Linked DNA regions of Homo sapiens. The protein of the gene in region 2 interacts with the protein of the main gene of each other region in a biochemical or structural test. Each region holds a gene or a part of one and is shown on either strand. Other genes may lie near its edges.

Region 1 (7,026 bases), on a different chromosome or scaffold from region 2:
TAGCTGAAGCCAGAGTATCCCCACCACTGAAGGTCCAGGGTGGTGGGGATACTCTTTAAGAACTGGAACAGCAAGTCAGAGGGAGTAATGGGGGGGCAGGGTCACTCAGTGCAGTGGTTAAATATGAAGCACCAAAGAATGGAGGCTAGGAGATAGACAGGCCTGGGTTCAAATCCCAGGGCTGCTAAGTACAAAGTCTGACATTTGCAACAAGTATTTTATTAGTGAGTACCTACCATGTGCCACTATTGTAGTCTCTCTGGGTGGGGAGGTGAGCACAGCCGCAGGCCCTACACATGTTACTGAGCCACTCAGCATCCCTTCTGCATTCGTTCCACTATTGCATTTTGAGAATCTGTGCTAGGCAATGGAGATTCAGGTGGGAACAAAACAGACCTGTTTCCTGCCCTCGTGGCATTTACAATCTAGTGAATACCACACAATTAGATAATTACATAAAGAATTCATCATGACTGTGCCAAGAGTTATGAAGGTATGTAGGAAGCTTCGAGAGCATGTAACAGGATGATCTGACAATGTCTGCACAGTTTTCTCTAAAGAACAGAGGTAATAATGCTTAACTCTCAGGGTAGTATTGTAGAACTGATAACTATTCGTGTTATTTTAGAAGTAGCCCCTGGACCACCAGACAGATGCAGTTCTAAATTCCCTACGTGAATAATCCATCCATAGGCAACAAGTTGATTCTTCATCTTCCACTCAGTCAGAGAAGCCAGGCCAGAGAAGCTGGGATTCAGTTATGGCTTCTCCTGGACTCCAGAAGCCTGTGATAAATAATATAGTTTCATTGGAGAAACATCAAGTCAGAGATTTTTTTCTAAGTGGCAGTATAGTGACTACAGCCAGATTGCCAGGGTTCATCCTGGTTCTGCCACTTGCTGTGATTTTGGGCGAGTCAATCACACTCTGTTTTTTAGTCTTGCCATCTGTAGAATGGAGCTAAAATTTGTAACTATGACGTAGATTGTTCTTGGTGAGGATGAAATGGGTTAATTCCTGTAAAGCGTGTAGAACAGTGCCTGGCGCGGGAGGAGTAAGTGCTTTTCATCCTTGGGTGGCCTGCGTGCTCCTTTTCCTGCCCACACACACAACACTGTCTTGGGTTCTCCAGCTGCAGGGAGCACTGTCCACCTTTGATATTCTTAAAACTCAAGGGAAGGAGTTGCCCTCACCGTCTTGGTGGTCAGTCCTGCATTTCATCCCCCTCACTCGAAGACGGTTTTTATGCCTAATGAGTCTTTTCTTGCCAAAGCTTGATTTCTGGGAAGGATTTGTCCCAGCAATCCTTCATTTTCATCTCTGGAACTGACAGTTCAAGGAAGTAGCCAGAGTGATGGGTAAATTTGGATCCAGGCCCAGAGGGACCTGAGAGTCACTGTGAGCCTGGAGGGCAGGGGAACACCTAGCTGCCAGCCCCCTCCCCTAGAGAGGCTGGGTCTAAAATTAAACATCCAGAAGGACTCCCCAGGCCAGGTGCAGTGGCTCACACCTGTAATCCCAGCGCTTTGGGAGGCTGAGGTAGAAGGATCGCTTGAGCCCAGGAATTCCAGAGCAGGCTGGGCAACATATGGAGACCCTGTCTCTACAAAAAATTTAAAAATTAGCTGGGCATGGTGGCACACCAGGTTAAGCAGGAGGATCGCCTGAGCCCAGGAGGTCGAGACTGCAGTGAGCTATGGTCATGCCACTTCACTTCAGCCTGGAAAACAGTGAGATCCGGTCTCAAAAAAAAAAAAAGGACTCCCAAAATCCAAGATGAGCAGTAGATATTGTAGAAGCTTCCTCCCTGGATCATTTTCTGATGAGGATAAAGTCCCTGCTGGCTGAGTGCCAGGGAGGAGGTTAGATTCTGAAAGCCCCTCACACTTAGGGAAGTAGGATGTGAGTAGCAGGGTCCATTAAAATGGCCAAGCAGCCTCCAAATCTGAAAGAAAGGGGGGTTACCTGCTGCTGTAAAGTCAGGAGAGGCCCTTCCTTGGTCACTTTAGCCGGGGACCTCAGGATTTCAGCTTTTGCTGTCAGTAACACTAAGCATCAGGCATAAGAAAGGGCAAAGTCAGTGTGGGTCCCGCACAACAGGGAACCTCAGGGCTCCTCCCTGCGCCTCCTGCTCCCCTGCTCGGGGATAGAGCGGCTCACAAGGGCGGTCAAGCTCTCATCACTGCAGTCCTCGGCTACGCCATCGCTGTCCCCACTTTACAATGAACGGGCAAAGGCCCAGAGAAGTTGTGTGGTTCAAAATCCCCAGAGAAGTTGTGTGGTTGTTCAAAATCCCCAGATCATAGGCACTTTGCAGGGGGCCTTCCAGGCCACAGCAGCTGAGTGGTCAGAACCCTTCCTCCTCTCCTCGCCGCTTCTCACCAGCTCTACCTATGGCAAATGGAGCCCGAGAATACAGGTGCGGGTCCTTGGGATGAGGCCACTAACGCGTTGAGTAGAAGCAGGAGGCTGGGTGATTTAAATCAGGCAGCAGCCTTTACAAAAATTAGGCAGTGATTCCTTGGAGGAATTGAATCAGCTCTCCCTCCCTGATGTTGGGTTTCCTTGGGCTCTCCATAAGGGCTCTGGCACCTCCTTCAGGAACACCTGCTCTGAAGCAAGGAGGGAGGCCCCAGGGTGGGCAGTCTTGAGTGCATGATGGGACACCCCGCTGAATCCAGAGCTGCTCCAGCCTCAGCAGCCCTATCTGTGATGGCATGCTGATGTCATCAGCACCAAAAGCCCTTGCAGGTTTCAACTCGGCAATTAAACGGCTCCTCTGAAGCCCAGCAGCCGTGTGTGTGTGCATATGTGTGTATTCAGGGTCCTAGGGGTGGGCTGGGGAGGAGGGCCCCTTGCAAAGGCAGGGAGAATGGGAGTTAGTGGGTGTGTGACTGCTTCTCTCCTTCGGAGACTCCAGACCTGAGAAGTCAGATCCCTATGGGACTCACAGCCCAAAAGTCAACCCTTGCGTGCAGGTGTAGCCAGAGTCTAAACTCAGCCTGAGCCAGAGCACCCCATTCCTTCCTTACTTCCTACTTTCCTCCCGCCTTTTCCTCCACGTTCCACTCCAATGCACTAAGCACCTACTCTGTAAAAGGCACCTGGGATGTAAAGGAGAACTCAAAATAACCGTGTCTCCTCTATCAGCCTGGGCGCTCCCCAAGGCCAGGGCATGTTGTTTCTCCTCCTCTCCTGGGTCCCCCTAGCCCCCAAAGTGGAGTTCTGAAGCTGGGAGCATTGATGGTGGCTGGTGCAGAGTGACAGGGCTCCCAGATGCTCTCCAACCCCAGGATAGTCGCCTGTCAACACAAGGCTTTCCTCAATCACAAAGCTTGCTTCACTTCCTCCCATCCCCTGCAGAGAAACTAGAAGCCCAAGGGCCTCATCACTGGACAGTCTGGGACCAGGGGAGGACAGCAGCTGGGTGGGGAGTCAGGAAAGCTCCCCCGAGGCATTTGTCAGGTGCCTCTCAGTAAGGCAGGGAGTCCTCAGACCATGGAGAACTCTGGCAGGACTTGCCATAATTGGGTTGATACAGTGGCTCTGGAATTTAGTAATTAGGAAATATTGCAATTAGAGACGGAATTTACCCATTACTATTCCATGCATCTTAATACAGGGTGTAAGTGGTTGTAACTGTGAGCTTGGCACTAGGCATATGGGAAAATAGAAGTGAATGGAGAAATGGGATGAAGGAAGGAGGGGATGGGAGGAGCTTAACCCTTTCCATACCCGAGTAGACTGAAGGAGCAGCCTGGGGGTGATGCAGGGTTAGGGCGAGCCCAGCAGCCCACCGCATTTGTAAGAGGTGACCGAGGCAAAAATCACAGGCTCCCTCCGGACCTTCTGCTTCTTTAGCTCAGGTAGGATCAGATGCAGGGCTTGGCAGGGGTTAGGAGAGTGGTGATGGAGGCCAAGAGGGAGAGGCTGCAGGGGAGAAGGGCTCTTCTCCCAGTTTCCTGCTCAGCTGTGGAGAAACAGAAAAGAGTTGTAACCACCTGCAGTAGTGTGCATGTGAGAGACAGGAGAGGGTACCTTGTACCTTCATCTCTCCCTCCCCACTTGTTCCTTCCCCCGCCCTTCTTTTTACTCCCTTCCTCACTCCTACTCTTAGCTCCATTTTCCTCTGAAGTCAAATGAGGCATTTGTGGTATTGCAGGGCTGAGCTGGGTAGGGCCATGTGTATGGGCGGCGGAGGGAGGGGAGCGGTGGCCGGGGGTGGGAGGGTGGTAGCGTCAAAGAGGTGGTGCTCATTTTTTCCTTTCCAGACCAGAAATGCCTTCCCCAAGGTCAGCCAGTGCTCTGAGCTCCAAAGACCTTCCCAGAGAACCTCTGCTCCCTAAGGGCTGGGTGGTTTGAGAGAAATCTCTTTTCCTCACCATTGATTCCAGTCTGAACTAATGATCCAGATGTGTTGTGCATGTCCTTCCTCTTCTACAAAGTGACTCGGGAAGCAGTTTTTATGCTATTTGTAGAAAGGAAGCATTTTCTGGAGCGGGGCCTTCTCTGCTTCTGCTACACCTTAACTCCCTAGATTAGAGGAGAGCTGTGAGGCCGCAAGGAGGGGGGCCTGGAGAGGGGCTTGGGCTGAGGGTGGTAGAGGTCTCTGAGGACTGTCCTTGTCTTCTGCCTCCTGTGTTTATTTGGAGAAAAGCCCATTTAACAAATGTACAGGTCTTTACCTCTATCCCTCTTGGGGCTGTCTGCCATGTATCTTTCATTGTACCAACTCAGATGGACCAAGTGACGGCCCGGTCATAGGGCCTAAGATGGGATGTTAGGAGACGGGGTGGAGGCCTGCAAGCAGGAGGAGAGGGGACCACCCAGGCAACCCTCTAGAAGTGCAGGAAGGATGAACAAGAACCTATTGGTTAAGTGCTCTTGGGTCTTGGAGGGAAGCAGACCTAGGACTGAAATCCATCCTCACCACTAGGAGCTAAGAAGAGTTACAGGTAAACCCCAGGAAACTCAAGGGTGGCTGTGGCTAGGATCAGTGTTAGCGGGAAGCATGGAGTTAATTGGCTGTGGGAGGGCTCCCTCTCCCAGTTTGACTCTCCCACGAGTAGGAAAAGGCATCACTTTAATAAGGCTGCCCTGTTTCCAAATCAATCCTGGCATTGCAGGAGGCGAAGGGGGAAGCACAGCTGAGAAATTGGATTAGCTCTTTGATGCTGGGAACTGTGCTGGTTGCTGCTGCTGCAGCTGCAGGAGGCAGGGAAGCATCAAGAACTGAGCCTGCCATTGGCAAGCCAGCCCCAGACGTCTGAGGCTTCCCAGGGAGGCGTGCTCCACCCCCATTAGGTCTCCTACTGGTAGAGGGTGGCAGGGGTGCCCTGGGGCAGACAGTAATAGAAGCCCAGGTCCTCACCACTGCAAACCTGGAGGTGTCTTCGTGCCTCCCCTGGAGTAGATCGTGAGCCCCAAAGACCTCAGGAGGTGAGGCAATGGGGAAGGGGCAGAGGAGAGGCCCCCACAGCATGTTCTGTAGGGCATAACTGAAGCAGCGTGTGTGTGGCTGGGAGTCAGATGGCCTAGGTCAAACCAAGACTGCCACTTCCTGCCTGTGTGACCCTGGGCAAGTTACTTAAACTTTCTGAACTTCGGGGTCCTCATCTGAAAATGGAGACAGTAACACACAGGGAACAGGCCCTTGTGAAGTTTACCTTATAGCAGTAATCAAGATGGGGGCCACGGGTCCCTGGGAGTCCCTAAGAATTTTCAGGGGGGTCCATAAGGTCAAAGCAGTTTCCATGATGGCAATAAAGTTATTTGCCATTCCCATGCTTGACATTGATGGTGCTAAAGCAGTGGTGGGTGAAGCTGCTGGCACCTTACCATGAATCAAGGTAATAGTATCACACTGCACCCGTCTTTGTGTTCTTCCACACTACACACCCGCTAAGCAAAGTAATTGGTAAATAATGAAATGCCATTTTCAGTTAAGAATGTCTTCTTTTCATGAAGCAGCAAAGATTATAATTATATTGAAGCTTGATTCTGGAGTGCACATCTTTTTAATATTCTCTGTGATGGAATGAGAAGTACACATAAAGCACTTCTGCTTCTTACAGAAATATTACACAATAATTTCTCAAGCAACTGAACAGTGCCCATCACCTGTGCATCTGTTTGAGTTGCAGGCTGAACTAGCCATTTTTCCATGGGATACCATTTTATCTGAAAGAACAACCAACAAACTCCAGTTATTCAGACTTGGGTGTTGAGCAGGCATTTTTGCAAAAATGAACGAAGTGAGCTCGTCACTTCCAGAAAAACAACTGGCAGTATTTGTGGCCAATGATAAAATTTAAGCTTTCAAGCAAAAATTAGAATTTTGGAAAACTCACACATATTACTATGAAAAGGACTTTTGTGATAAGATCAGTGGGAATAGTAATAGATGTGATTTGTTAATATTGTTTAATGAAATTCATCAATATTTGAAAGATCTTCACAATTCGGCAAGCCAATATCTTCGAAATGATAAATGAATGATGTCACAAAATCATGCACAGAGGCAAACAAGCATTCCAAGTGCAAGGTTTCAGATTCCCCACTGCAGCCAGTCTTTAAGAAGCTACCACTTGGGGAGCAGTGATGTCATATCAAAGAAAAATATCCACAATGATCTGAAAAGGCTTTATTAAATACCCCTCCCCTTTCCAGTTACATATCTGAGTGAGGTTGGATTTTCTTTCATCTTTCAATCAAAGTAATGTATTGCAGACAGACCGAACACCGAAGTTGATATAAAACTCTAGCTACCTTCTAGTAAACCACACATTAAAGAGATTTGCAATGATGTGAAACAAGGCCTCCTTCTTACTAGATATTTTACTAGAGAAAACGTCTACTATATATTTTTTTGGTCTTGGAAAATATAGTTACTTATTAAATATGTTGTATTAACAGGTAATGAGTTACTATTGTATTTTGAGCTAATTTAGAAATTTCTCAGTTTTAATTTTGAATATGGTAACTATGGATGGATCTAACTTACATAAGAAAACGCTCTTGGAGGGT
Region 2 (7,026 bases):
CAACTTTTACAAACTCCTGTGAATGTTAACTTCTCTCATGAATCACAGATGTTTGTAATGGCATCTAGAATGATGAATCCTTTCCAGGAGGTTGTCAGTTTACTTTGCCCCAATCCATCAGAGGAATTACTATCTATGGCAGCCTTACAAAATGTATTTCTTAAATAAGAAGACTTGAAAATCACAATTACTCCTTGATCCATGGGATAGAGAATGGATGTTGTGTTCCACGGCTGCAGGCATGAAAACAACATTAATCTCCTTGTACATCTCTATCAGTGCTCTTGGGTGGCCAGGTGCATTGTCAGTGCGTAGTAATATTTTTGGAAGGAACCTCTTTTTTCTGAGCGGTAGGTCTCAACCTGGGCTTACAATATTCAGTAATTCCTGCTGTAAACAGATGCGTTGTCATCCGGGCTTTGTTCTTCCATTGACAGAGCACAGGCAAGGTAGATTTGCATAATTCTTAAGGGTGCTAAGATTTTTTGAATGGTTAATGAGCAATGGCTTCAACTTAAAGTCACCAGCCACATTGGCCACTAGCAAGAGAGTCAGCCTGTCCTTTGAAGTTTTGAAGCCAGGCATTGACTTTTCTCTAGCTATTAACATCCTAGATGGCATCTTCTTCCAGTAAAAGGCTGTTTTATCTTCAGTGAAAATCTGTTGCTTAGTGTAGCCACCTTCCTCAATTATATTAGGTAAATATTTTGGATAACTTGTTGCAGCTTCTACATTAGCACTTGCTGTTTGACCTTCTACTTTTATGCTATGGAAATGGCTTCTTTCCTTAAACCTCATGAACCAACCTCTGCTAGCTTTATTTATTTATTTATTTTTTCTGCAATTTCCTCACCTCTTTCCACTTTCATAGAATTGATGAGAGGTAGGGCCTTCCTCTGAATTAGGCTCTGGCTTAAGAGAATGTTGTCACTACTTTCTTATCATTCATGTGTTCACTGAAGTGGCACTTTTAATTTCCTTTGAGAAGTTTTCCTTTGCATTCACAACTGGGTTAACTGGCATGGAAGGCCTAGCTTTTGGCCTGTCTCCGCTTTTGACATGCCTTGTTCACTAAGCTTACTCATCTCTCACTCTTGATTGAAAGTAAGAGACATATAACTCTTCATCTGAATACTTAGAGGCCATAGTGGGATTCTTAATTGGCCTAATTTCAATATTGCTTTGTCTCAGGGAATAAGGAGGCCTGAAGAAGAGAGAGAGAGAGATAGGGGAATGGCCAGACTGTGGAGCAGCCCAGAACACACACATTTTATTGATTAAGTTTACCATCTTATATGGGCACAGTTTATGGTGCCCCAAAACAGTTACAATAGTATCATCAAAGATCACAGATCACTGTAACAGATATAATTATAGTGAAAATGTTTGAATGTTGCGAGAATTACCAAAACGTGACCCAGAGACAGAGTGAGCACGTGCTGTTGTAAAGATGGTGCTGACAGACTTTGGGTTGCCACAGATCTTCTAGTCATAAAAAATGCAGTATCTGCTGGGTACAGTGGCTCACGCCTGTAATCCCAGCACTCTGGGAGGCCGAGGCGGGCGGATCATGAGGTCAGGAGATCGAGACCATCCTGGCTAACACAGTGAAACCCCGTCTCTACTAAAAATACAAAAATTAGCCGGGCGTGGTGGCAGGCACCTGTAGTCCCAGCTACTCAGGAGGCTGAGGCAGGAGAATGGCTTGAACCCGGGAGGCGGAACTTGCAGTGAGCCGAGATAGCGCCACTGCATTCCAGCTTGGGCAACACAGCGAGACTCCATCTCAAAAAAAAAAAAAAAAAATGCAGTATCTGTAAAGTGCAGTACAAAAAGACGAGGTATGCCTTTATATGCTGTTATGTAACAGTCACTGCTCTTGCATGTTTAGAAGCCTGCAGTGATGTTAGAACATTTGTTCTTGCCACTCCTAATAAATTCCAGTGAACATTTGTCAATATGGTTTTTTTACAAATTAGGTTAACAAATAAGGGAAAGAAGATAGTAGAGTCTCTATGTTCAAAATGTAGACAATTTTCCTGCCATAGTTCTTACTTTTTATTCAGTTTTAGTGGCTTTGACTACTACTGAAATCACTTTATTTAATTTAATCTTTTAGGAGCTTGAAATAGATTGCGGCCTAACATTAAAAGAATCCACCACTTCTCTTTAGTTTGCATCAGTAAAGACACTAGGAACCTCTTAGGTACTGGAAATTTTCCCTGTGGTGTAGACTGAGAACCTAATCCTTACACATGGCTTTTGTTTGGCAGCAGCCCGACTCATAATAAAAACAATTTGGAGGTAGCCAGTGGAAGGGATAGTAATTAAAATAATGCTGGAGTTTGGGTTTTGGTTTTATTTTAATAAATTAGTAAATTGAATTGTGGAGAAGAATTAGCTTTGTGATCAAGATACTTGGTTTTTGCCTATTTCTTACTGGAGAAATTTGCCAGCTTTTCCCCCTCTCATTGTTTCCAGTCCCAGCCACACCAGTCATAATTGTCTTGGGAAAGATCTAACTGCTGCTTTCTCAATACAGACTATAGCTAAGCACTTTGTTTCCTTTCTCTAAGGCTAATTAGTAGTAATAATAAAGAGATGTTTTGAACTTTTATTATAATGCTATGTTGCTTTATTTTGTAAGGAACATTGCAGTTTTTGAAAGAAAGAATACAGATTTCGAATTTTTTAAATCACCTCTTATCCCATGAGAGATTTGTTTTCACATCAAAATATTACGAGATTATTATATTCCAAAGCTTTCTAATACATACGTACTTTCTATAATGACACATTATCATTCTAGTAGTAGTAGTAGTAGTAGCAGTAGTACTAAGAACAGCCTACATCTACTGAGCATTTATTATTTGTCTGGTAGGATTTAATATTTCCCTAATTTAATATATAGGAAAACTGAGATAGAGGGAAATTTAAGACTTGCCTAGAATCACATATCTAAAAAGCCGTAGGTATGGAATTGAAACGCAGGCAATTTGACTGCAGATTTTAGGTGTTTCTTGTTATTCACTCAACAATATGTCCTAGTCAACTTCCGTGTGAATTAACATGCATCAAGAGCATCATCTTGACAGCTACATGGAATTTCATTTTAAGGGTATGACCACTGATGTAACTAGTCTCCCATTGTTGGGCATTCAGGTTTTTTCATGTTTTTCTGTGATAGAAGCATTGCTGTAATAAACATCACTGTGTACATCGTTGCATGCTTGTCCTGTTATTTCCTTAGGATAAACTCTTAGAATTTATTTCTTACAATTCTCAGATTTCTTTAAATAAATTATTTCATAGAAAAACAAAATCTCAATTTCAGAAATTTTACCTATGCCCTGCTACCATCCCAGAGAATAAGTTTTAAAAATACATGCAATTATGGGACATGAAACTGCCAAAGGGAAGATAATTTTGTAACAAAGTCTTTTGATATTTTTTAATGACTGTCAGAAAGAAAATAGAATCCCTAGAAATTAATTGAATTCAAACATTTCCCTTCAAATTTAAAGACACTTGTTTAATTTGTATTATAACTCTAATGCTTCAAAACTGTTTAGGACTTGGCGTGATTTAAACTAACTTGGTTTGAAAAGGAATTTATTGTAAGAAAATGATCTTCAGTAGGGACAAAGGCCTTTTTTTCTCTTTTCATTTTTGGCTTAGAAGATGAGAAGGGCTGTTTTGAGGACAAGATTCCCAACAGAAGGGAATCCTTTGGTGGCAAGTGTAAACAGCTTTGGCAGAAAGCCGCCCTCCAAAGAAAAAGGACTTCAGCTTGTTTTAAACTACAGGGTGAGCTCCAAGACAAAAAGGATAACCCTGATGCCAGGGGTGGGCCAATAGAGATTGTTTGGGTGGAAACACTACATCACAAAGGCTCTCTAGAGCTGCCTCATTAGAAGTTGATGAGTTTTGAGATGTACCCCTTTCCCAGTTCTCTAGACAGGATCAATTACCATTCCAAGGAAGTGATTATATTTCACTCAGGACCACAATGTTCCTTTTAGACTTTGTTACCAAAATGATAAATAAAATATAAATACTGTAAGTGTAGGTTGTTTCCTGACCGTTTTCCCTTCGATTTTCAGAAAATTAATCACTTATACAAAACTGGATTCATGCTTAATTTGAAGGAGATTCTCATCTTTAATTTAAAAATGCTTTAGAATCCTTTTTAGTCACTGTAGATATAGAAAATGCTTTTCGCTCATTTTGTTTCTGGGGTGGGTATGGATATGTGTATATGTATATGCATACTCGTGTTTAGCCTACAGCCTACATTTTCTTTTCTTTTCTTTTTTTTTTTTTTTTGAGACGGAGTTTCGCTCTATCGCTCAGACTGGAGTGCAGTAGCGCCATCTCGGCTCACTGCAACCTCTGTCTCCCAGGTTCAAGCACTTCTCCTGCCTCCGCCTCCCGAATATCTAGGATTACAGGCTTGTGCCACCACGCCCAGCTAATTTTTGTATTTTTAGTAGAGACAGGGTTTCACCATTTTTGCCAGGCTGGTCTTGAACTCCTGACCTCAAGTGATCTGCCCGTCCCGGCCTCCCAAAGTGCTGCGATTACAGGCATGAGCCACCGTGCCCGGCCTAGCCTACATTTTCAAACTTACGTTTTCATTTGAGAGAATTGCTATCTGTTTGAATAAATTACTTGGAAAGATGGGTGACAAGCCAGCATCCCATCCTTGTATAATTATGTGCAATTATGTGCGGCATTGCTGATGGGTGTGGTTGGATGTGATATGCATGAAGATGTAGTGAGGTGGTCAGAAAACTCAGTCATTTGAGTATCCATTTCCCTTTGATTCCAAACAACTGGCCATAGAAACAGTGGGTAGGATGGTAGCAGAGATCCCCTATACCCATTCCTGCAGAGACGTAGAGAATGGAAGAGCTACTCTAAAGCAAAGTTTCTTTTCTCACTTATTTAATCAAAAAACCTTATTGAGTACCTACTATATGCACACATTTGTTGTCTGTGCTGTTCCTTCATCAGAATTCATTCCTCCTTGCTAAAAGCCTCATTTCCCCTCCCTTCCCACAGCCCCAGCAGATACCCACGGTCCTTAGGTTACTGAAAAAGTTTAGATCTTGCCCTCATCAAACCCAAGTCCTGTATCTCTTTCCTTGAAGGCCCTGCTAAAGTGGAGTTTTATTTGTAATAACCTTTTTATCATAAAAAATAAACTTCGAGATGGAAAAATATTTTAGAGAAAAAAAGGAGATTATATCATGAGCATTTTCTCCTGATATACTGCCTACTTGTAAACATTTTAGTGGGTGGGTATTATTTTATTGTAGGCTTCAATTTCTTAACACTCACCCAATTGTTGAATATTTAAAATATTTTTCCCTATTATAAATAATGCCAAAATGGACATCTCTGTTCTTCAAACTTGGTTCATAATTTAGATTTATTTTCTTAGGGTAGAATTACTAAGTCATTGTTTATTAACATGTGTTAAGATCCTTAATATAAATTGCCCAATCTCTTTTCAGAGCATCTGTTGCAACTTAGTTTCACTAAGCATCCACTTAGTGCTCCTATTATGGCACCTTTACCCTCATTGAGCACTAAAATCTTTCAAAATCTTCACTGATTTTTTTTTTTTCATTTTTCATTTTTGAGACAGAGTCTCGCTCTGTTGCCCAGGCTGGAGTGCAGTGGCACAATCTCCGCTGACTTCTATCTCTGCCTCCTGGGTTCAAGTGATTCTCCTGCCTCAGCCTCCCAAGCCGCTGGGATAACAGGTGCCTGCCACTACGCCCAGCTAATTTTTTTGTATTTTTAGTAGACATTGGGTTTCACCACGTTGGCCAGGCTGGTGCCGAATTCCTGACCTCGTGATTTGCCCACCTCGGCCTCCCAAAGTGCTGGGATTACAGGCATGAGCCACTGTGCCCGGCCATTTTTCTTATTACTAGTGAGATTCGATATTTTTCACATACTTACTAGACATTTTTTAGTTTCTCTTTCATGAGTTGTCTATGTTCTTTACTCAGACTTCTTTTGGGGTTTTTGTGTTTTTCTTATTCACATGTATGAACCTACTGAATATTAAGAAGGTTAACTGTTTGTCTTTAATATTTATTCATTATGTTTAGGCTAAAATCCCTCCAAGAATATTATTTATAATCATATTATCACTTACAGACGATAACTTGGTTTTTTTCAGTGAGATGAGCTTATATCATTTTATATAGGAGATGGCTTTCAATGTTTAAAAATTAAGAACACATTCCTCAAAGCTAAGTACAGAACACATCTATTCCAGAAGCTTTTATAAAATAAGGAAGAGTATATAAATTGCAAGAGACCTTGGTACTACCAGTCAATACTTCTGTATTGATATAGCCATTGGGTTCTTATTGCACTTAATGCGATAGCTCCTCTGGGGTGCTCATTACAGAATTGTGAGATCTATGCCCAGACTAAGCACTTGAAACAGATAATGAGCTGCTTTGGAATGTACTGGATTCCAGTTAAAATTCTAGTAATCCCTCATTCCTATACTTCAGTTTTCCTTACCTCTAGAGCCCCTGAACAGTAGCTCATATGTTCTCCTTTTCCTTTTAGACAATTCCTCCTCGCTTCAAGAAGATGAAGAAGTAGAGATGGAGGCCATCAGCTGGCAGGCCAGCAGTCCAGCCATGAATGGGCACCCTGCCCCTCCAGTGACCTCTGCTCGTTTTCCCAGCTGGGTCACCTTTGATGACAATGAAGTCAGCTGCCCTTTACCACCAGTCACCTCTCCTCTGAAGCCAAATACACCACCAAGTGCATCTGTGATCCCAGATGTACCTTATAATTCAATGGGATCATTTAAGAAGAGGGACCGTCCCAAGAGCACTTTGATGAACTTCTCCAAAGTTCAGAAGCTGGATATTTCCTCTTTAAACCGCACGCCTTCTGTAACTGAGGCTTCACCTTGGAGGGCAACCAACCCTTTCCTGAATGAGACTCTGCAGGATGTACAGCCCTCCCCTATCAACCCTTTCAGTGCTT
Region 3 (7,026 bases), on a different chromosome or scaffold from region 2:
TCAGCGGCCATCCGGCTCTGACACCACATCCTGCTCTGCTGACCCGTACGGTGGCAGCCATCGCAGGGAAAAAGCCTCTGTCTTCATGCTCCCCCTCCTCCCAGTCCCTCCTGGTGTGTCATCTACATTGGGCCATGCCCCGCCCCAGCCACTCGCAGACACATCTAGACTTCTTTTCTCATGGTTATTCAAGAGCCTGATCATCCTTTCCTTCCCCTTTGCTGCCCGCATGGAATGACCTCTGAGTTCCTTCTTTTGATCCAGGTGGATTAGTGATTTCCTGTGTCATTTCCATGTCATTACATCATGTGTCAATTGCAGCATGCATTATAAATTACTTTCCCTCTACTGACCCCTAGACATGACAGTCAGGGTGTCAGGGCGCTAACCAGGAACTGTATGTGTGTTGGTTTCAGAGTCATAAAGGGGACACTGTGTTTTGTTGGTTTCTAAAAGGGACACTGGATCTGAGGCAGCTGAGACCCACTGTCCCTAGCCAGTTGGAGGCGGCTTGGCCATTTGGGTGATGACTCTGCGACAGCTAGTTCTCAGGCTCCCACCTCACAGTGTGGTCATCTGTGAATTACCACTAAGGACAGTCATTTCCCCCAAGCCACTAAGTAACATCCTGAATTTCACTGCTCTACTTGGAGGTATTTGCCTCTCGAGAATTATCCAGCAATTCTTTCCTTTTGATAGCTCCCAAGTGAAGCCTTCTCTAAGGCCACAAGGCTCTGAGCAACAAGCTCAAAAGTGACTTCAGCCCTGGCCAGTGGCAAGAGGAGTGCCCCAGCCCTATGAAGTCGGCTGTGTCCAGCCCTGGGGGAAAGAGGGGTTGAGGCCGACTCCTCGACTGGGCTCTGAGGCACTGACAGGGTCTCCTTGTGCTCACCCTCCCGCCAGGAGCCAAAGCACTGGCCTTTCCAGAGCAGGGCCTCCTGCCCCCGCCCTCACCCTGCCAGGCCACTCTGCTAGAGGCTCCAAGGCCCTGCTGCCCGCACCTCCCGGAGGCGGCTGTGACAAAGTCCAGGCCTCCTGTTAGAGCCAGCATCACAGCCAGCAAGAATAGGGCCCAGCTGTGTAAGCAAATGGCCTGGGAGCACTTAAGACGGACCAGAGGCCCTTCCTACTGAAAGACAGTGAACTGACCGTCACGGAGCGCGGGCTTCGAGCCTTGGCACGTGCACCTTGCTCAGCCTCTGTCAGGCCAGGGAGAATAAAGGACGCCAGACACAGCGGAAGCCTGTGACAGGCTGGAGGGGGCCCCCTGACCACCACCCTCCACAGTCTTCACCCACAGGCCCCCTGGAGCCACCCACAGCCACAACTGCCACCTGTCCGGCCTTACCATATGTGTGCTAGAAGGTTCTGGGTGAGGCCCGAGTGCATGAAGATCTCCTTCACCTCCTGGCCACTCACGTAGCCATCCAGGTCCAGGTCGGTCTTCAGGAATATCTCATCAAATCGCATCTTGTCTGCCACGGGCACCACCCAGTTCACTGTTGGCTGAAACAGTTTTTGGCAAAACAGTTAATCTGGAAGCTTTTTATGACCCCCAGACACATGCTTTTTGATGATGGGGCGATTAAAGCACTTCCATGCACATTTGGCATCAAACTCTCCTCACTTCCATGAGCCAAGAGGGCAGATGTGATCCTTGTTCTGTAACTGGCAAAACTGAGGCTGAGACAGGTTGAGGCTGGCTCTGTGAAGCTCACCCAGATGCCAGTCTGCACCTCTCTCCACCCCATCACCCGCTCTCCTTGTCCATCCACCCTGCCACCCAGGGTGTGAGGGAGGCTGTGATCTTCAGGGGATGGGTTCAAGCATGCCAGGAAAGACCCTCCCGAGCACCCACTTGGAAGGACCGTCCCTGGAGAACCGGCCCGGCCACATGCCAGCCTCCCTGGTCCTCCCACTCCTCAGCCCGCAAAGGCTGCCCTACAGGCAGCCAAAGTGTCCTGTCCCAGGACTCTGAAGACCACCCTTCTATGTCCCTGCCCCACTCCTGAGACAACAAAGATACCCCCAAGGTGTGAGTACACACACGTCACTGACAGGTAACAAATGAGACACCACCATCCAAGAGGGCCACCACCCACGAGGCCCCACCAACATTCATGCAGCCCCAACCCCACCAGGGCAGATGGAGCCACGAGCCCAGTGCAGCTCAAAGTTCACAGCCCTGGGGCTGGGTCACCCGCTGCACGTGCGACCCCTCTCGCCACCAGCTCACAGTTAACTTGAGAGAGGCAAACGCCATCATGGGTCAACCAGGGCCCGGTCACCTCCTGGTTCAGAGGCATTGAGGCCCCTCAGGCACTCAGGGGCAGGCCCCTTCCGTGGCCTACTCCACCTGCATTACCGCGGGCCTTCAATACACCCACCACGCCACAGTTCACGGCATCTGTGTCCTGAACTCTAGACGTGCTTTTCCTCTTCCCTTTTTTTTTAAATATTTACACAAATCACTCCTTTTAAACAATCTCATAATAGCAATGAGAATAAACACCTGATTGAATTATCTAGATGATGAGGGAGTGGAGAGAAAAAGGACAGGCAAATGTGGCTGGAGGGATCGATTGTTCCTTCTCCACGCAGCAACTGTACAGAAAAGCCACTCCACTCCTCACCTTCAATGAACGCCATGATGCCTGAAACTGCCACTCAAAGTCATTCCTCTCAGTTATGAAAGGATTTCTTAGGCTGGGTGCAGTGGCTCACACCTATAATCCCAGCACTTTGGGAGGCTGAGGTGGGTGGATCACCTGAGGCCAGGAGTTTGAGACCAGATTGGCCAACATGGTGAAACCCCCTCTCTACTAAAAACACGAAAAATTAGCCAGGTGTGGTGGTAGGCACCTGTGATCCCAGCTACTCAGGAGGCTGAGGCAGGAGAATTGCTTGAACCTGGGAGGCAGAAGTTGCAGGGAGCTGAGATTGTGCCACTGCACTCCAGCCTGGGCGACAGAGCAAGACTCCGTCTCGGGGAAAAAAAAAGGGGGGGGGGATTTCTCAAAGAGTTCTCACAGTGTTGACAACCCGAAGATGTCCATAGGATTGAGGAGAAGGGACTCATGGTCAAGACTGGGAAACAATGGTTAAACTCGTTTACTCTTCATGAACGAGTCTCCTGTGATGTCCAAATCTAACAGGCTCCTGATACCAACTCAGGGAAATCAGAAAGCAAGCTTGGGAAACAAGGGATACCATGTGACCCAGATCAGCTTAGTTCAGGGGTTTCACGTAGCAAGTATGTGTGATGAAGTACAGCAAGGACTTGATCAAACAATTTATCAAAATCCATGGAGCTAGGCCAGGCACAGTGCTCATGCCTGTAATCTCAGCACTTTGGGAGGCCAAGGCAGGAGGATCCCTCAAGCCCAGGAGTTCAAGACCAGCCAGCATAACACAGCAAGACCCCATCTCTACAAAATAAATAAATAAATAAAATTAGCTAGGTGTGGTGGCATCCACCTATTCCAGCTACTAGGGAGGCTGAGGTGGAAGGATCACTTGAGCCCAGGAGGTTGAGATAGCAATGAGCCGTGATTGCACCACTGCACTCCAGCCAGGGCAGCAGAGCAAGATCCTGTCTCTTATATATTTAAAAAAAAAAAATCTATGGATCTAATTCAAATGATGAGAGTTCAGATGGCAAGAGCAACCTGATTTTTACTTGTGGCATTGTACTGTGTAAATTTTGTGAGCCTTCTCAAGTCTGGTGGACGTAAAGATGCCAATAAAGGAATTCTAATGAGAAATGGGCTTGCTGCCTTTTAAGTCACGGAGCTACAGCAAGCTAACCTCAGAAGCCAGGGATCACAAAGAGGTAACAGGAGTCAGACAAGCTGAGCTGTGGCGGGACACAGAAACAAGGGGGGTTCTGTGTCCCACGGGTCCCAAGAAGAAATTACGTATGAAATTATAGCTCTGGGATGACAAGAGTCCTAATAATACTTGCTGGGCAAACAAAAGGAACTCACTGCCTGATTTCTGGAGCCTCAGAGTATGTTAGCAGCAAGATTCTGATGCCAAATTGACTATAAACCCAACACGGGGCAGCCTTGCCGTGGAGCTGGCTCTCCCAGTGACAGCTGGGCTTTAAGGCCGGCTCAGCAGCCACAGGTCCCAAAGGAAGGATATCAGACCCTGGTGGCTGGAAGTGGCTTCACTCAAACCTGGCATGAGGGCAAAATCGGGTGGCCCTTGGGAGGCCCAGACAAGAGCATTGCTGGCCTGGAGATGAGGAAGTTGGAGTAGGGGGAGCATGTGGACTGTAGGCCCCCAGAAATGCTCGTTTTCATGACTGTGATCCTACCAATGCCGTCGTGGGGGCAGGAGCTATACCCTCCCACCCCACCCCACCAGGGGCCACTGGTAAAATCGGTCTAGTCAGAGGGTCTTGAGAGAACCACCAGAAGATCACTAGAGAGGTGGGTTATGACGCTGGGTGACCTGTGCCTACCAGTGAGTTTGGCCCCACTAGCTTCGTTGCCAGTAAAGTACCTCCCCTAACCTGACTTTCAAAACTCTTGGCAAGAGCTCTGCAGACACAGGCTGGGCACGGTGGCTCACACCTGTAATCCCAGCACTTTGGGAGGCCGAGGCAGGAGGATCACTTGAGCCAAGGAGTTCAAGACCAGCCTGAGTAACATAGGGGAGACCATGTTGAAATAATGAGATAAATGAATACTTTTTTTTTTTGAGATAGAGTTTCGCTCTTGTTGCCCAGGCTGGAGTGCAGTGGCGCGCTCTCAGCTCACTGCAACCTCCGTCTCCCAGGTTCAAGCAATTCTCCTGCCTCAGCCTCCCGAGTGGCTGGGATTACAGGTGCGCACCACCACACCCAGCTAATTTTTTTGTATTTTTAGTAGAGACGGGGTTTCACCATGTTGGCCAGGATGGTCTTGATCTCCTAACCTTGAGATCTGCCCACCTCGGCCTCCCAAAGTGCTGGGATTACAGGCGTGAGCCACCGCACCTGGCCACAAGCATTTTTTAAAGACATTTCATCACAAGCTTGACCGTTCTGGGGTTGCATGTTAAGAACTCCCGAGAAACATCCTACTGTGCTCTGAGAGGGGGCTGTGCCCGCTGAGGGCTCCGTACCTGTGTTTGCTTGAGGCTGTGCTTGGGGGACAGGCTCCCTGTGCTGTTGAGGCTGCTGACGCTGCCGTGGGACGGCGTGGAGCGGAGGCTGTCTTTTGGTGGGGGGCTGGCAGGCAGGACGGGGACGGCGCCAGGGAACACAGTCTTCTTTCTCTTGGAGGGTGGGATGAGGGACGGGGGCAGGGCGGAGGGCACGGGCTCCTTCTCCAGGGCTCGGTACACCAAGTGCATGGCCTGCAGGTGCAAACAACAATGGCACTGAAGGGGCAAGGCTGGGGCCGGGACCATCAGGAGAAGGCAGAGGGCAGCCCTTTGGGGGCTGCAGTGACAGGACACTCTGTCAGGACGCTCCCAAGCTGACCAGAGTGAAAAGAAATCATTCCTCATGAGTTATCTTTTATGTGTAACTTTCCAAGACATGTGTTGAATTATTCCTCGAGACTGAAATGCACACAGAAAGAATCCAATCAAGCCAGACTCCATATGCATCCCTTCACCACTCAGGGAGGCCACCAGCTCCAGGGCTGGCACCTTCCCAGTACTGGATTTGGAAGTCTAAAGACACCAGAAGAGAGACCTGTACTTCAAGACGTTCAGGAGTAGTCCCAGCTACTTGGGAGGCTGAGGTGGGAGGATTGCCTGAGCCCAGGAGATGGAGGCTGCAGTGAGCTGTGATCGCGCCACTGCACTCCAGCCTGGGTGACAGAGCGAGACTCTGTCTCTATAAAACAAAACAAAACAAAACAAAAAACAGTGGAACTGAGGATGCATCCATGAGGCAGGCCACAGCCATAGAAATAAATTCCTTGTGGAAGGCCAACTAATAAAAGTGCAAGGAATGATGGTTTTGATTAGCACATCACCATTTGGCAGCCACCATCATCATAATTAATCTTGCCAGATTAAGGCGAGACTCATCAGCGATGGTGGAACTCTCATGGAAGAGTCTGAGAGTCATGGGTGTTGACCGTATCAAGGCGTGCCCCACATGAGATGAACTGAGCACAGAGGGAAAAAGAGCAACTGCCCACAGGAACCCACAACCTTGACCCACCTTGACCCAGTGATGAATGTCAACATGGCAGTAAGAAGACATGTTGACATCACGTTCCCCCAGGTGGGAGGCCCATGTGGGGCGGGTGTGACCTCCGTGGGATTCCTGTCTCACAAGAGTGCATGACCTGGGTCATCAAGAGGACCTGGCAGCCAGGCCCAGGCCTAGGAACACTCCATAACTGCTGGCCTGTGCTCTTCAAAATGTCCACGTTGAAACCAGGCATGGTGGCTCATGCCTGTAATCTCAGCACTTTGGAGGCCGAGACGGGCAGATCACCTGAGGTCAGGAGTTCAAGACCAGCCTGGCCAACAGGGAGAAACCGCATCTCTACTAAAAATTCAAAAAAAAAATTAGCTGGCTGTGGTGGTGGGCACCTATAATCCCAGTTACTTGGAAGACTGAGGCAGGAGAATCGCTTGAATCCAGGAGGTGGAGGATGCAGTGAGCTGAGATCATGCCACTGCACACCAGCCTAGATGACAGAGTGAGACTCCCTCTCAAAAACAGAACAACGACAACAAAAAAACAAAAAGTCCACGTCAAGAGACACGAAGAGCGATGGAGGAACTGTTCTAGATCCCAGGAAACGAAAGACAAAAGACAACAGGATGTAACACACAGGACTGGGTTCTCTTTAGACACAAGGAACATTTTTGGGACAACTGATAAAATCTGAGTAATATCCTGGGATTAGATAATAATAGACACGCTCATACAGAATATAAGGGGTATATACAGGATATAATGAAAACATCATAAATGCAATGCTATGATGTGAATTTCCTGATTTTGAAGTGGATAATGGTTATGTGTGAGAGAAGTCCTTGTTTTTAGGAAATACGCACTGAAGTGTTTGT

Evidence for each region. The genes of interacting proteins can lie anywhere in the genome.
Region 1: the proteins of STON2 (region 2) and SYT2 form a complex in vitro, tested with the Homo sapiens proteins (one study listed by BioGRID).
Region 3: the proteins of STON2 (region 2) and EPS15L1 interact in a biophysical measurement, tested with the Homo sapiens proteins (one study listed by IntAct).

The regions. Positions count from the first base shown.
Region 1 is NC_000001.11:202,700,455-202,707,480, reverse strand, and holds part of SYT2 (synaptotagmin-2), read left to right. Parts: intron 1-7,026. UniProt on the Homo sapiens protein: Exhibits calcium-dependent phospholipid and inositol polyphosphate binding properties. May have a regulatory role in the membrane interactions during trafficking of synaptic vesicles at the active zone of the synapse.
Region 2 is NC_000014.9:81,278,311-81,285,336, reverse strand, and holds part of STON2 (stonin-2), read left to right. Parts: intron 1-6,597; coding exon 6,598-7,026. UniProt on the Homo sapiens protein: Adapter protein involved in endocytic machinery. Involved in the synaptic vesicle recycling. May facilitate clathrin-coated vesicle uncoating.
Region 3 is NC_000019.10:16,419,971-16,426,996, forward strand, and holds part of EPS15L1 (epidermal growth factor receptor substrate 15-like 1), read right to left. Parts: intron 5,347-7,026; coding exon 5,113-5,346; intron 1,507-5,112; coding exon 1,349-1,506; intron 1-1,348.